2 separate regions of the Homo sapiens genome follow, and region 1 is linked to region 2. A link means that fine-mapping ties the variant in region 2 to the expression of a gene that starts in the linked region. Tissue or cell type: fibroblasts. Region 2 holds a variant in brackets; the other region holds the start of a gene. All regions are shown on one strand. Distances are between the middles of the regions.

What was found. PIP is the estimated chance that this variant, and not a neighbour inherited with it, causes the effect.
Region 1: it holds the start of GPM6B, and the variant in region 2 is fine-mapped to the expression of GPM6B in fibroblasts (GTEx, PIP above 0.99).

The regions. Positions count from the first base shown.
Region 1 is chrX:13,812,357-13,820,356 of GRCh38, reverse strand. GPM6B (glycoprotein M6B) reads left to right here and starts at 3,264. Exons shown (of 8, transcript NM_001001995.3): 1 at 3,264-3,513. The coding sequence starts at 3,453.
Region 2 is chrX:14,024,550-14,032,549 of GRCh38, reverse strand. It overlaps GEMIN8 (gem nuclear organelle associated protein 8), which reads left to right and starts at 2,658. Exons shown (of 5, transcript NM_001042479.2): 1 at 2,658-2,773; 2 at 6,329-6,410. RefSeq lists silencers at 2,318-2,457, 2,492-2,691 and enhancers at 2,068-2,568, 2,569-3,069. The variant C/T (reference allele first, on the strand shown) is at 4,741.

The DNA.
Region 1 (8,000 bases), 210 kb after region 2:
CACCCAAGCTAGAAACTCTAGCCTCCCCTTCAAATCCTCCTCCACCCCTACTCATACAGATCCAATCCAATGACATCTGGGTCCTCACTTCCTCCCCGTGCCATAGTTCAGGTTCACACTATCTCTTACTGGTACTGTTGCAGGAGACTCCTGACTAGTTTGCCAGCCTCTAGTCTCATACTCCACCCACCCTGTCTTCCACGTTACCAATAGAATGACCTTTGTAAAGCACGATCAGCTCTGCTCTTGAGCCTTCTATCTCTACCTACTGCCTCTAGGGCTAGCAAGGTGTTCAACCTACCTGGTTCCCAACCTACTGGCTCAGCCATCTCCCTTCAGTCCCTCTGTCAGAAAAATCACTTCCTGACCCTTTGACAGTACCCTCTTTTTCCTCTCATATGCCCTTCAGTTTTTCCTAGAACTCTTTCCGTTCCTCTTTCCTGCTTTTCCCTTCCCTACCCTACCCAGCAGGTTTCTAAGCATTACTGCAATAGCCAACTCAACTCTGCAAAGCTTTTTTCAAATTCTCTTCCCCCTCCATCCATTTTCTTTGTTGTGATGCCATAGTGCTTGTGGCAGGCAGGAGCACCCTGTTTTAGAAGAGTTTTCTGTGTCCCATTAGCCGTGGGTTACCTGGAGACAGGCATCGTCACTTGTGCATGTCTGTGCTGCTTGTAGATGTTGGCACTAGGGAGGTTACTTCATGCATGTTTACTGAGCTGGCTGCAATTATACAGAAGACTTACAAACATATAAGTCAAACCACGTGAAACTGCTGTTCTTCTTGGTCAATATCAGCAATTTCATATGTTTATTCTAATCTGTTTTGTTCAGTATTTTGTATTCCTGTTTTGGCTTTCAGAAGTGTTCTTACCTTCAACCAGACTGCCTTAGAGCATGGGGCTCAAAGAAATATTTTCAGCTCTGGAAGACATTTTCCATCCTACTTCTACATATAGAACTTTTCTGGCCAAAAATGGATGCATATCTCAGAAATGTAATAAGCAATACTCTTCTCTCTTCCTCTTGACAATTGTTTTTCAAATGGTTTATCATAAACATCAGTGAGATCTTGAGGCTGTTATAAAGTGATATAATGGTAATTTCTAGAATTGTAATACATTATCCTAGTGAAAAGAAAATGATGAAGTTGTGAATCAGGCAAAAGTGATGAATTGCTCATTTCCATGTAGTTTTTCAGGTGGAAAGTAGATGCAGGTATCAACTGGAGGATGTGTGAATATTTTGTCTAATGGTTTTGATCTCGATATAGAACTAGAGTTGTTCTTAAATTAAGAATGTCTTTCATATTCTGCCTTTTCACCAGCATCACTATTAAAATAATATTCTTAAGCAACAGCCAAAAAATTATTAGGATCTGCTGGTTCTATAATCAGATGTTTTTGCTGGACACTTTAAAAACCAATAACAGCTAATCACAGTGTCCTCTTTTGTGCTGAATTGAATTTTGTTTTGGTTTTAATTCTCATTTGAACTGCTGGGAAAGCAAGCCTGTTACATACCAACACTTGCCACCTTTCTATATTTGAATGGACCTAAGTAGTCTTTGCAAAAAATGTCTAAGACTGTCCTATCCGGACACACCATAGGGTTTTCCCATGGAAATAATTATATCACAAACGAATCTTTTTTCTAAAGTCTGTGGTTTTAGGCTGCCATACTTCTCAATCCCCTGACCAGGAGACAATAAAATTGGCTGGGGCCTTAATTTGAGGGAATACATATTTGATTGTGGGCGTGGTCTTCTAAGACAATGGTAAAGGGAAAAGCAAGATGTAAAATTAAACGTTGAAACAAGCTAAACTGGTTTTCAAAATCTTCTCGACTGTAACACATCTAGAAGTTCTAAATATAAGAAGGTTTGAGGGATTATCTAAAACCAAGGTATTAAAAGATCAGGTTTTTAGAAGATTTTGATTCAGTACCTTATACTTTTTTTTCAAGGAGTTGAGCAAGAAACCATCAAAACTTAGGAGAGTGATTTTAGGAGAGGGTGGTCTCCAACTTGTCTTTATGTTTGCTTCCAAGATAAGTGTTAAGCCCAACCAACTAGCAGACTATTCATGATCTGGGAATCCTATCAGTGGTCATCCCTGTATTTGACTTGAGTCTCTCTAATTTTTTATAGGGACGGCGAAGGCCAGTTGGTCAGCCAAATGCATAAAAAATGGTGCAGAAATTAGTGATGCTTGGAAACATGGCTCATAATCATGATAAAGGCTTATATGTTGGTATGGGTTGAGAATGTTGGCCTCATGGTATCTGGGTATGCAAGAAGGCAAATCATTATTGGTATACTAGCCTTTATGTTGAATATTTAGAGAGCTCTTGAAAACACCCCTTCGATTTGGAGTGAGGAATTCTAATGAGTAAAACTCCATGTAGAAATAACCATATCCGATTAAAAAACTATTTTGATTTTCATTCCAAGAAACTACCAAAATGTCAGCTCGATATACTTGTGAACATGTTATGCTTATTTTTAAATAAGGAAGGGTGCCTTTTTACAAATTAGGCTTGAGTTTCTCTTACTATCATATATATTAACTATAGACAAGGGAGTGGGTTCTAATAACAAATTGCTACATTGCTATCGTTAAATCCGTGTTTGAGTTTTCTTCCCTCTAATGTATTTTCTCCCCCTCTTTAATTTATATTTTTAAAAAGCAATGTACTTATCTAGAAATTGTATGAAAGACAAATATTTAAGAAAGTAAATAGAGACTATGGGCACGTCCTTTGAATATGTTTTGCCAGGGTCGAGGGGTAAATGAAATAAACTGATACATCATAAATGGACCACACAGGAAAGAAAGTGTCATGCCTATGCAAAGACATGCATTCTCCTTAGAGACGACATATATTGCTGTCGACCAACAAAGTCACGTGGTGGGAGGGGGCTCTTTTCTTTCTCCTTCACATCCCCTCCTCTGATGTCACAAATCTATTTTTTCCTGGGAGAATTAATTAGCATTCATTGGGTGTACTTGGCTAGAAGAAATGAGGTGGGGAGAAAGAGAGAGAGAGAGAGAGATCGAGATTGAGATCTTAAGAAAGAGAGCAAGGAGGAAGAGCCCGGTGGGGAGCAGGTCCTTCTCCCCCACCCCCCTACCCCCAACTCCCACTGGAGCCGCATTGAGACTGTAGGCACCACCGGGCGCCGAATGGCTGTTTTCTAACTGGGATCCTCGGTGACGTATGGCTGCCTGCCCCTTGGCAGCTGTCTTTATGGACCAGTAGGCAGAGCGAAATTGACGCTGACAAGACTTTTGCATCTTGGAAGGGACTGTAATCTACTGTAGTGAAGAACAGAGCCTCTCAATCAGACGGGTGTAAATAAGAGACGGAGGGGAGTCCAAAAGAAAAGGAAGAGGAGGAAAAACAAGTGTGTGTTGGGGGGAACAGGGGGAAAAGCATTTTTGGTGGATGGTATGAAGCCAGCCATGGAAACTGCAGCCGAGGAAAATACTGAACAAAGCCAAGAGAGAAAAGGTACCCAGCGCTCTGACAATAGCCTGTTTAAAGCTTTTCACTGGGGGGTGCTTAAAAAGGGTTAGCTGGGTTTTGTCTCTCTTTTAAAATGGCTCTGAGACAATCCCTATGGCATGGTCTTGCTTTCAGGGTTGATTTTTTTCCTGTGGGCTGATGTTAAGTTAATAGAGCAGCCTTTCTTCAATCCATTCCTGTTCCAAATCTTTCTACCGACGTGATATTTCATAGAGGGATGTCTATAGTTTGTCACCTTGGGCTGATGCATTGGGGAAACTGTCTTTTTTTATTAATATAATTAATCGTAACTTAGGTCTTGTGTCCTGCATGTTATATTCCAGGAACGTGGAATGTGTAGTTTTCTGCTAATGCTGAGGAGGAACTGGAGGGGCATGCATGTTAATTCTGCTTTGGTTCCGCTAATGCTGTAGTGATTTGGGCATTCTCTAATTTTCTTATTCTAATATGATTGCTCTTTCTTGTATCAGGCCCTGACTACGACATGTAATAATCATTTACAGTTGGAGCTTCAGAGAGGGGACATCAGCTCTGTCACCCAGTGCTGATGGAAAGGCAGGGCGGGGGATCTTCTGCTAATTATGACTTGGAGACTGGGGGGAAGAAAATTGATAAAGGTCCTATTTCTTAAAGAGAATCTTAGAACGTACCACAATTTTCATATACAGAATGGTTTTTTGGAGAATAAAGTGTTTTTGCAGTAAGAAAATGGCAGAAAGGAACTAAAATTAATCTCTTTTTTCTAAATAATGACTGATTTCAAGTTTGATGTCCCATAGAATCGGCTCAGCCACTGTTAGGTTAATGGATCTCACTGCATTGTAATTTTCCCTCACTCAAAGTCATAGACTGTCATAAATGCCCAAAAACATATTCTGTAACCGCAGTGGCTCTAATATAAAAAGCCATCATGCTAAGGTTATTTCTCACAGCCCTTGCGTCCACTGATAGTCACTAAAGAGTAATTCGCCAGTACGGGGACAAAACTTCGTTTTATTTATAAAGATACAGGCTGAACCATATGAAATTGCTGATAGTCAACCATTTTAAACCTACAAAAACGGCAATTACATGTACTTCAGCTTCACAGTATGCTGGGGTAAAGACTGCTTGTTTTTATATAAAATTTCTTTGGTACACAATAATATTTTATCCTAAACAGAGCAATTTTACTTTTTAAATTAATTTTTTTAGGTATCACACAATACACATAACATAAAATTTACCATTTTAAGTATACGATTCAGTGGCATTAAGTACATAGCACCTTAATTTTAAAATCGTTTGTTTAGTTCAATCCTCTTACCAAATCTACACCTCCCCACCAAAAACCCAGCCTGTATTTTCTTGTGTGTCTTTAAAAAAAAAAAATCTTCATCAATGACCAAATAGCTATAAGAGAAGCTCTTGGGAATATTTATCAAGATGAAGAAGTGAGATCAAAGTTTTTTCCATGATGACTAGAGACTAAGTTGATTGCATGTTGTCGGGGTATGATAATGTAATAGCATTGTCCCAAGGAAGCCTATCACGATTTTATCCTAAAATGATGATTTTACTTAGTACATACTTTTAATTTTTATTAATGTGGTATTCAACCATGGCAGATAAAACCGTTTTGGTCTTTGCAAAAAAATCCCTTTTTTAAATTTCTCTCTGAAAGGAAGCAAAGGTCATATAACCAATATAAAATCATTACTACACAACTGTGTATCTTATCACTTAGTCTTATGGACTGCTATTATTTTATGTCAATTAAATCTTATTTAATAACAGATCTACAGGTTGCTAGTACATCCCTGACAACCCGTATATGAAAAGTCATTAGTTGTGATTTTAGAGACAAAATTAGAAGCAAAAGATAATTTGTGAAGGAACTTTAAAAATTACCTAAATGTATAAACACTAGCTGCTTGTTAAATAATTCAAAAATATCACACTACCAGAAGCTAGTGTGACATGTATGGTACATGCTTGAATAAGAATACAAGCCAGGGGATTTGTTTTTCCTGATCTACAGCAAGAGGGGTTGTGATTGTTGTGTGACCCACCATAATTGTTGATCTGGAGGGTGGCTTATCTAATCTGCATTTAGATGAACAAGTTCATATGCTGGCTACACAAAATCAAAGCCCACACAAGACACTTTGTAGTTTCCCAATTTGCTCACCCATCATCATTAAGGTACACATAGGATAAAATGATAGCCACAAATGTTTCTGCGTGATTGTCACATCAGTATTCCTTCAGATTTAACTTTAAGTTTATTAAAAAATTATTTTTCCATTGAAATTAACATTTGAAAACTTGACATAATTATTTATAGAATGTGTTATATAATTCTTGAGCTGGTGGATCCGTTTTTTATGTTTTTCTTTTAAGCCTTTCAGCAAAGGATTTTATTCATTAAATTTAATCCTGTAAATTTTGTCACTTTACGCAGAGTTTTTTATGCACATATATATTTTTTTTCCTGTGTTTCTCCTTTCCCATCTGTTTTCAGTGGTTGGTGATGGAGTGATGCCTGTCTCTTAATTTGGGGCATTATTGCCCAATGGCTAATACCCAATAGCATGTGAATTAATATCTTTGGATAATTATTGCAGTGTCTATTAAGAACTAAGAATGTAAATTAAACTTAGCTTTATAAATTGACCTTGCTTTTCTAGTTGGGATCTTTCCTGGGAGTTTCAGCGGGACAACACAACCCAGCTATTGTGATTCACTAACTCCTACAAAGAGAGCTCTTTCTTTAAACTTAATCACAATGACTTTGTTTCTACTTTAGACAAAATTAATCCATGTCCTTAAAAAAGGAAAGCATTTGTGTTTTTTCAGTCTGATAGTTTTCATCACAGCATGCTACCAGATACCAAAATTCACAAGAGTATTTAGTAGATATTTAGGGATTTTTAAGGAAAACAAGCAGATTTTCTTAGATGGATGTAAGAAATGCCAAATTATTACAAATGATAGTTTTTAAATTAAAAGCATTAAAGTGTGAAGATTGAGTAAGCAGATTCACTGACATGGAATAAGCAGAGGAAATGAATAAGACAGAATCAAAAGAAATAGATCATGGAACCCAATAATAAAAAGATGGAGAGTCGGTTTCCATTGATTTCAGTGGAGTATTACTTGTTGTCATTTCATTTGTGAAAATAAATGCATCTGAAATTGCTGAGAGTGGATAATCACTGAGTAGAAAAACAATTGAATCATAACAACTTTGTATGCTCTATTATGGGGGAAAAATCTATCTGTTATGAAAATTATTTTCATTATATGTAGGTAATTGAATTCTACTGAAACAATTATAGTCAGGTTAGTTAACTTCCTATGAATCGTTGCTGAAATAAATTACAGGCATCAAATTAAATTCCTAACCACACAGGAAGAAAAATATAGTGAATGGGAAACAATGTGTAATTTAAAATAAATTACAGGATATAGTCAAAGTAAGAAATGAATTTAAATTATTGACTTCCTTAAAAAATTAATACATCTATTTTAATCTTTTTGATCAAATAGATATAATTTCTTATTTTTTTTTTTAATTTAGCAAAATGTATGCACTTTTGGCTCTCATTTTTCGTTTAGGAAGAAAAGCACTCCTCTAGAATATACGACTTGTGTGATTAAAAACCCAAAGGGACACATAACACACGTCACACTATTCCTGATGATCTGCGAATTATTGCATTTTGAAATTTGTGTTGACATTTTCTAACTTGGCTATATAAATATGGTACAGAGGAAGTTTTAGATGCAGTTATTATCTGTAAGAATTTGCCAAGGTGGACATCTGAAGAGTTGGTGTCTGGGGAATAGGCTGTAGAGAAAAGTGGCTGGCCAGATGGTGCGGAACATATGTGGTAGGTATGATACAGCTTCCTTTGATTTTTTTTTTTTTTTTTTAGAACATTTAAATGTGGAAAAGATCTCAACGAGCCATTTGGTACATCTTCTACTTTTACATTATTAATTCCATTAGGATTTTTTTAAAGACTTGGCCTTGCTATTTCGTTAGAAAAAGAATTCTGGGCCATTTCTGGAAATTTAGATTTGCCTTCCCTGAAATTGAGTGTAAACCCTGAATTAAGATTATTATGATTTTCAAGATCACATTTCTCTGTTATTTGGAAGTACAGGGTCAATTTAGACTAAATGATCTTAATAAAGTGACTTTGTCTTGATGTATCTGAGAACATGCAAAATAACCAGTGTCCCCATGACTTAAACTTCCCCTCTCTGTGACTGTGATGGATTGGATTGGATTGTTACAAAGACACTCTCGCTTTTTTCTCCTTTGGACCAAATGTACATACATGGGAGATAGTTGGCCAGGAGTAGGGATGGCCATGGAACGGAGGAAGAAAGTGACCACACCGACTGTTTTTAAGAGAGGAAGGTTACAATCCCAGTTTCACAAATGTGCTTTGTTGTTCATTCATTTATTCGTTTAATGGTGT
Region 2 (8,000 bases):
CAAAATTCAGTTTCTCTCCCTGGTTAACCCCCTGGAGTAACAATCCCCATTCTTTTCAAATAGGATTGTCGCTCCTTAGGTGCTTAGTGTTCCCCACCACCAGTATTTTTATGCAAGTGAGTTAAAGTGAGTAATGACTAAAACTCAGACTTAAAGATGAAAAGAACAGGACTACATCCTCAATCAGCTACAGAATTTCCATTCCCTGCAGCAACAAGGGTATGGGAGAATCAGCTAGTTTCTTTTCTTCTTTAGTCAACTTTTAGCTGGGCACTTGGCCATCTGAAAAAGACAATTCCAAGCTCCTGCACCCTTAGGAGGGCTAAGTAATGAAGTTCAGGCCATTAGTAGGAAGTGATCAGAAGTGCTGTGGGCCGCCTCTGGGTAGTACTCTTAAAGCAGTGGTTCTCAACTGGGGGTGACTTTGCCCCCTCCTCCCCCAGCCCAGGAGACATTTGGCAATGTCTGAGGACATTTTTGGCTGTCACAACTGGGAGACAGTACTGGCATCTTGTGAGTAGAGACCAGAGATGCTACTAAAACTCCTACAATGCACAGGACAACCCCCAAAACACAGAATTATCCAACCCCAAATGTGAATAGTGCCAAGGTGGAGAAATCCTTAGAGGGAAAGGGCATGCCCTTGGCTTTCTCTTTCCCACTGGCTGAAAGGTGCAGTGGTGCACCATCTTGGACCATGTGGGCCAAGGCAAGAAACCAGGGAGGGTGGAGCTATGAGACAGGTGGAGCTGCCATACTCTGGACTCCTTACACCCAGACTGCCATGAGATAGAAATACACTTCTCAACAGTTTGAGCCACTCCTCTTCTGGGTCTCTGTGACAGCAGCCAACTAATATTCTATCTAATGCCATAGTATACCATATATATTGTATTTTTTCATTCATAGAACCAGGAATCACTCTACCTGAACTATATCCACTCTAGGCCTGCATCCTTCTGCCTTTCCCAGGAACCCCCTAAGCTCTTTCTCCCTATCTTACCCCTCTCCATCTTTCTTTCCTGCCTCTCTAGATGCTGGCTTCTTCCTTGAGGTAGAGATTGCACCAGGCCCCATCTGACTTATCTGTCTCAATCCACACCTGACTTTTCCCATAAGACTTCACCCTCCTACCATCTCCTGCTTCTATCCATAGATATCTCATTTCCTCCCACATCCATTTTCTGAGGTGGAGGAATAATCTTTTCTAAAATAATCCCCCTCTATATACACATACTTTCTGGCCCTTACCCTGCTATACTGTCTTCATATAACTCACCACAACATACAATTCTATTTATCTGCTTATTGTCTATGTTCTACACAAAAGATTTAATTTTATGAGCCCCAAAACTGTATTGTTTACTACTGTGTATCCGGTAAATAGAATACCACGGTACAATAGAAATGCAATGCATGCCACATATATAATTTTAAATGTTCTAGTAGCCACACTAATAAAGTAAAAAGATAAAGATCAAATTTTAGTCTTTAACCTCAATAGTCCTTCTCTAAGATGTTATCACTATAAAGAAATTGAGGTATTTTACATTCTTTTTCTCATTCTTCTTCAAAATCTAGAGTGTAATTTACCCTTACAGTGTATCTCAGTTCAGACTACTACAATTCAGGTTCTCAGGGCCACATGTAGTGGTTACAATGGACAGCGCTAACATAGAATACTTGGCACATAGCCGGCATCCAGTAAATATTTGTTAAAGTTAATATTCTTCTATACCATTTTAATTCTTCTGTAGTCCAGGAATAATACAGTAATGTCACGTCATTAATACCACCCAATTGACTTAGCCATTTCCTTGTTGGGCATTTAGGTCTTTTCCAATTTTCACTTTTTAAAATAATTCTGTAATAAACATCTATCTGGTTCGTACCTGTTTTTCCTTGGAATAAATTCCCAGAAAGTATTAAATATGGTAATTGCCCCAGAAATGATATGTCACGTAAGACTTCTAATTGTTTATGCTTGGTTCTTGTTAATGACTCTTGTAATGTTAACAGGGCAGGTATTGCTGTGATGGTTATAATTACAAACATATTAGTACTAATGTTTTGTCTGCTGCAATGCATCAGGCACTCTGCATTAGGTTATGCATATCTTATAGATGAGACACACGAGGCTTGGGGAAGTTACAAACTTAGCACTGGACTCGCACTCAAACTGAGATCTGGGTTAATCTATTTTCAAAGACTGGGTGTTTTACGCTGGGACAAATTAAGAAACTAAAACTGTTTTAGTTAAGAAAGAAAACAGAAAGGAAGAAAGAAAAGGCTAAGTAAAGACAAGGGAAGGAAAACGAAGAAAGCTGAGGAAAGGACAAAAAGTTAAAGGCTGGAAACCCGGGCGGTGCAGAAGCGACCCTTATCTCGCCGGTGCAGAAGCACCGTCCGACCCCCGGCGCGGGTGCCCGCCACAGTCCCAGTGCCCCGCCCGGTGCAGCTCCCTCTCCGCCGGCCCCGCCACCCGCAGCCATCCCACGCCTGCCGCCCCGGCGCTCCACTCGGGGTAGCCGATTAGCAGGCAGCTTCCGGCCTCCAGCACTGCACCGCCTGCGGTGCGAACGTGACGTCCGCGACACAGGGGGGGACTTCCGGCGCGCCGCGCCACGCCACGTGTTCCGCACCGGAAGCGCGCTTCCAGTCGCCCCGGCAACAGCCGCCTCCCTCGCGTCCCCCACTCCCCCTCTGTCTCTCCAAGGAAAACTAGGCCCCTGCGCGGCCAACGCCCAGGATCCGCAAGCTGCGCGCCCACGAGGTGACTTCGGGGACGGCTGGGTTTCCTTTGGGGAGTGAGGGAGGAGCTTAGACGCCCCGGGCCCTGGCTTCTTCTGATGCGCAGAGAGCCGAGGTCTTGGACGTCACGTTGCTCTCATAATTATCTTAATCCCGCGACAAAAGGTGGGGCCGGAGGCCCATGAGATTCCTAAATCATTGCAGGTTAATTGTGAGAGGGGACCAGTCCCAGAGGCTCTCAGCTCTGCAGTGCTTCCGAATCACTGGACGACTCTTTAAGAATTCTGATCCCCGGGCCCCCATCCCGGACCAATGAAATCAGAATCTCTAATAGTGGGGCCCTGGCATCGGTAGTTTTTAAAGCTGCCCAGGTGATTCTGGGGTGCCGAGAACCACCGTGTTAAGGTCTGTAGGTGAATTCGGATTTTGCCCATCCAGTCCAGTATCTGAATAGAAGATCGCCCAGGACAGCCACATACTTGAAGGATGTCTAGGATATTGCCCTCTCTGCTCAAAAATTCGGGTTTCTTTCTTTTCTCTTGCACTTTAACCTCTGCAGGAGGTCAGCTTTTGGTGGGAGTTATCTTGAGACATCTGGCGCCTACAGTTTATGGGCCTTGTGTCTCTGCCCACTTATCAGTAATGAGCTGTAATTGAACCAGTGGCCAACGAAGTGCATTTTAGCTCTGAAATCTTGATGTTCCCTTAGTACAGATCAGATGGTTCTGAACAATTTTATTTTTTTCAGGAATGATGTTTTTAAACTCGTTTGACAGGCTAGGCTGTGTATTCAGCTGTTCTTCATCTCAAATCAGAACAATATTACTTAAAAAATCTAGACTAAAGATTAGTAACGCAACACTTCTAGGATTATTTATGCTCACAGCCCCCATGAATTGTAGGATGAGAGCTACCCTTTAAAAATACTATTTTTGCTAGCATAATTTATCGGAATAACAGTCTCTTTGTAATTTCAATGTGAACAGAAACCATATATTTTTAAAGACTGCTGGTTAGTAACTTGGAATAAGCATAACTGAAAGCAAGTTCACAGGTGTATAAATCCCCTCTGTGTGTTCATTGCTGTGCTGGGGAAGTATACAAACTAAAGTTCCAGAGAGAAATGTTCATTCTGAAACTGTTCTATAGATGGTGATTAATCATTTTGGGTTTTTTTTTAAAGGATAGGGTGAGATGAGAATGACGGGGGAAAGTTTTGAACAGTTAAGGCTAGAGTGTAAATTGGAGAGTTTGCAAAGTAGGTACAGAACTTTTTTTGAACAACTTCTCTACAAGAGGAAATTCAGCCACGGAACAGCTGGACAAGTGAAAAAAGAATGTAGTTGATCAAATATCAGATGAATTGAAAAGATCTTTGAAAACATAATGTATTTAAATATTTGCTTCCTGAAAAGATTTGGTGCTTTATAGTCAGTTTTTTGAGTTACTAGGTCCTCAGAGATTTTGGGGAGTAGATGCAGGAGGAGAGAACGTTATCAGGAAACAACAGACAAGCTCAACAATTTCAGCAGCATCTAAGAGCATGAAATATTAGCTATTATTTTTATGCTGGAAGGAAAATAGGAAACTTAAAAGGAGTAGATTGTAGAATCCATGCCTACAGGTAACTGAGTAAGTGCCCAAGTAAATGAGGCATAGTGAGTGCCTATAAATTCAGAAAAGAGAGATTAACATGGAATTACCGTGAATATGTTTATAGAAAAAAGTAAATTTGAAATAAGACGCCTGAAATGTACTAGCGATCTTAACTACTTTAAACTAGCCATGGTTTTTGCTGTTATGCTCTTAATTTGCAGAACCTGCCTATTCAACCCTTATTACCTTATGGTCACACTAGGTTTTGCTTATGAAGGACATGCTTGCTGTGAAACAAACTTATCTGTTTCCTCTTTTGAACTATGTTATCATTATGTCATTCTCAGTCATCCCATTGCTTGTTGTGTTCCTGAGTCAGAGGGTAACTTTGTT[C/T]CTGGCCTCATATTTCACTTTTGATTCTGATATTAGTCACAAGGGGATTCAGAGAACTTGCAAATAAACCCATTCACAAATTCATCACACTTGCTGACAAATTAAACAATGCCCTTCTGTGGGTGGAATGTCATTTGTATGAAAAAAAGAATTGTTAACTGCATCCTTTCAGCCTTACTCCTTCCCCATGCTATGCCTTCTTTGTGACAGTACTTATTACAACATCCAGAAGAGGGTAAATTGGGGTTGGGGATTGAGGGAATGAAAAGAAAATAAAACTCAGTTTTTTGGCTCCCTTGCCTATCAGTTTTAACTGTAGCTATTATAGACGGGGAGATGCAGGCTTTCTGAACACAGTGGCATGTGCACTTGAGTAGGCCTGTGTCCTGCCCAAGATGGAGCTTGGATGTCTGCAGGTGGAAGAAGGCCATTTGGACTTGAGCCATCTTTGATGTCCAAATCACTAAGCAGGGACCATGCAAAGACACAGGAGGGAGGCCATGAGGGCATCAAGCCAGATGAGCTTGCCAGCCTCAGCAACCAGCCAGGGATGGGGGCAGGGCTGCCCAAGTAGGTGGGGCAGGAAGCCCAGCCCTCAACAAAACCCTATTATATTCTTTGTCTTAGTGAGGAAGTTCTTACTGTTGTGTGTATTATTGGAAGACATCTTCTGTGATAGGGTTATTATTGCATGTACAGAGAGATTCCTTGGAACCGCATATGACTCAATCTATCTCACTCAGATTTCTCACCATACCTTCACTTATTTTGCTGCAGTGTCCAGCAGATCTCCTTGAAACAGTGTGTACTGAAGACCTAACTAAATCCTCCAAATTACCTGGTTGGTTCAGAGAACCAAATCACTGGAGCTTTGTAGGGAAGGTTTGACTTTCAGGGCTTTAGCCAGAGTAACTTATTTAATGATTGGCTTTTAATGTGTTTCTGTGCAAAGATCAAAGCAGGTGAATTTTCATGTATTTTTAGAATTCTAGTAGAAAAGGAAGATAGGAAAATCTAGTTCAAGTATACATTCTAGTTTTTAGGGGAATTTGTGTTTTTATTTTACTTTTTTGGTTGCTACGATTTGTCCTATATTCTATATTTATAAGAACATAAATATGTAATTAAAAGAATATATTTGATGGCACTACCTGTCAACAAAGCCACTTATTTGTGAAATTTTTTGGTAACTTGATGGAAATAGTCACATTTTATCCATTGAAAACTACAAAGCTCTTATCTATTGTTCTTTGTGTATATTTATGCATTAAAAATAGATCCTGCAGGATGAGCAGATGTACTGAAGTGTAAATCCGTTTTTTAAGAGAGGCTATATGGAAAAATATATCATTCAAGACTCAGTCTCTGCCTTGCCTATAGGCCTCGTCAGTGTTTAGTGAATGACCTCAACCCTGTTTTTTTCCTTCCTTCTTTGGTGGTTGAGGACAGACAATGAATGGTCTCTGTACTCGCCTGGGCTCAGCTGGGTGGTGGCCATTATGCCATTGTGCTCACTGGAGAGGGCTGCCGGGTTTGTAGAGCTGCGGATCCCGGCCTTCCCTGACATTGCCAATCTCTTTTCTTTCAGCTCCACCAGCCCATTGGAGAAAAGTTACTGTTCAGTCCCTGAAGGCTTGTGCCATAAAAGAGTGGGAGACATTCCCAGGGAGGTGAGGAATGAAAGATCGAATTAAAGACCATTAAAGACCAAAGGGCATCTAAATCTGCAGCAACCATCAGCTCTCTTTTCTTTGAGAGGTAGTAGTCTCTGAAGGTGTTGCTGTAATGTCTATAATTATTTAGATGTTGGCTTTTCAGAAACCCAGGCATTCTTATTAGCTCCTTAAGTTCTCCATGCGTGAAGAAAATAACCAGCTTAAAAAAGCTAATCGGACCTATCTCTAGAAGAGGACCTCTTCTTCCCTTGGGAGCTAACTGATATTAACTGACTAACTGATTGCTTAGCAGGAAAGAATATATATTCTTTCCAGGGAATAGAGATTCAGAGCTCTGTCCTGTTTGCTTTCTAAGCCCTGCTGATTGATATGGTTTTGCAGAATTTTTATTGTTATTTTTAGTTAAGTCTTTAAATGTTTATATGGATATTTAAGAAAAGATCCAATTTCCTTATTTAGTCATGGAGAGTGTTTTTTTGTCCCACATATTAGCAACCGGTCAACATGATTGCTATTGGTCATAGTCAGTTTTCTTGCCTCCACTAGTCTTTCTCCAAACCTAATCATTTATGAAACGTGTGAGAATCGTGAAGTTCGTCTACTGATTCCCAAGTGGAAACTGAGGAACAATTAGGATGCTCAGTATATTCAGAGAGAATCTATACAACTTCAAAATGTGTTAACATGAAACAGGGGTGGGCAAAATAAAAGCCCACAGCCTGTTTTTTGTACTTCAGGAAGCTAAGAATTGTTTTTACATTTTTAAAGGGTTGTTTGGTGTGTGTTTTTTTTTTTTTTAAAGCAAAGAACGTGAAGACTATGCGACAAAGACTGTATGTGGCCCACAAGCCTAAAATATTTATCTCGCCCTTTACTGAAAAAAAATTGCTGGCATAAAGTAATAATACTGGAAAGACCTAGCTAAAAATAATTATAAAGCTCTATGCAAGTTGCTATTCCTTTAAACATGTTTTTCTATGCCTTATTTGACTTTTGAGAGACGAATGTGTAATTCTTCAAGTCAATTATTCAAATTGGTTAATTTGAATATAGGATTTTAGGAATCTTAAAAAGACTTAAAATGTAAAAGGCTATTACAAGTACAAGTACATTTTGGGATTTAGGGAGAGAAAATAATAAAGCCAAGAGTGAGATGAGCACAGTCTACATACAGCCTCAGGACTTTAAACTTGATGGAAGATGGCAGCAAGTTTGATTATAAATGTCCCAGTGGTCAAAACTGTGAGGAAAGCATAATCAAAGCAAAGCAAAATTGCCTACAGAGTTTCTTGCACTCCATCATTAACATAAATTCATCCTTTCATAATGTCCTGGGTCTTAAGAGTCTAGCACCTTAGCTGATGAATTAATATATTTAATTAATGTAGATAGTGGGCACTCTGGGCTTATTCTGAACTGCCTCTGGTTCAGAAGCTGGAACTGGCTTTCTTCAGTCATCTCAAATGATTCTCTTGGCTTCTTTCTTGCATAAGTGCTCAGGATGTACCTGGGTGATCTCTGAGGCCTTCTAACATAGCAGCCCTTCTACCAGATGATTTGTTGGATCAAAGTTACCTCTCCTCA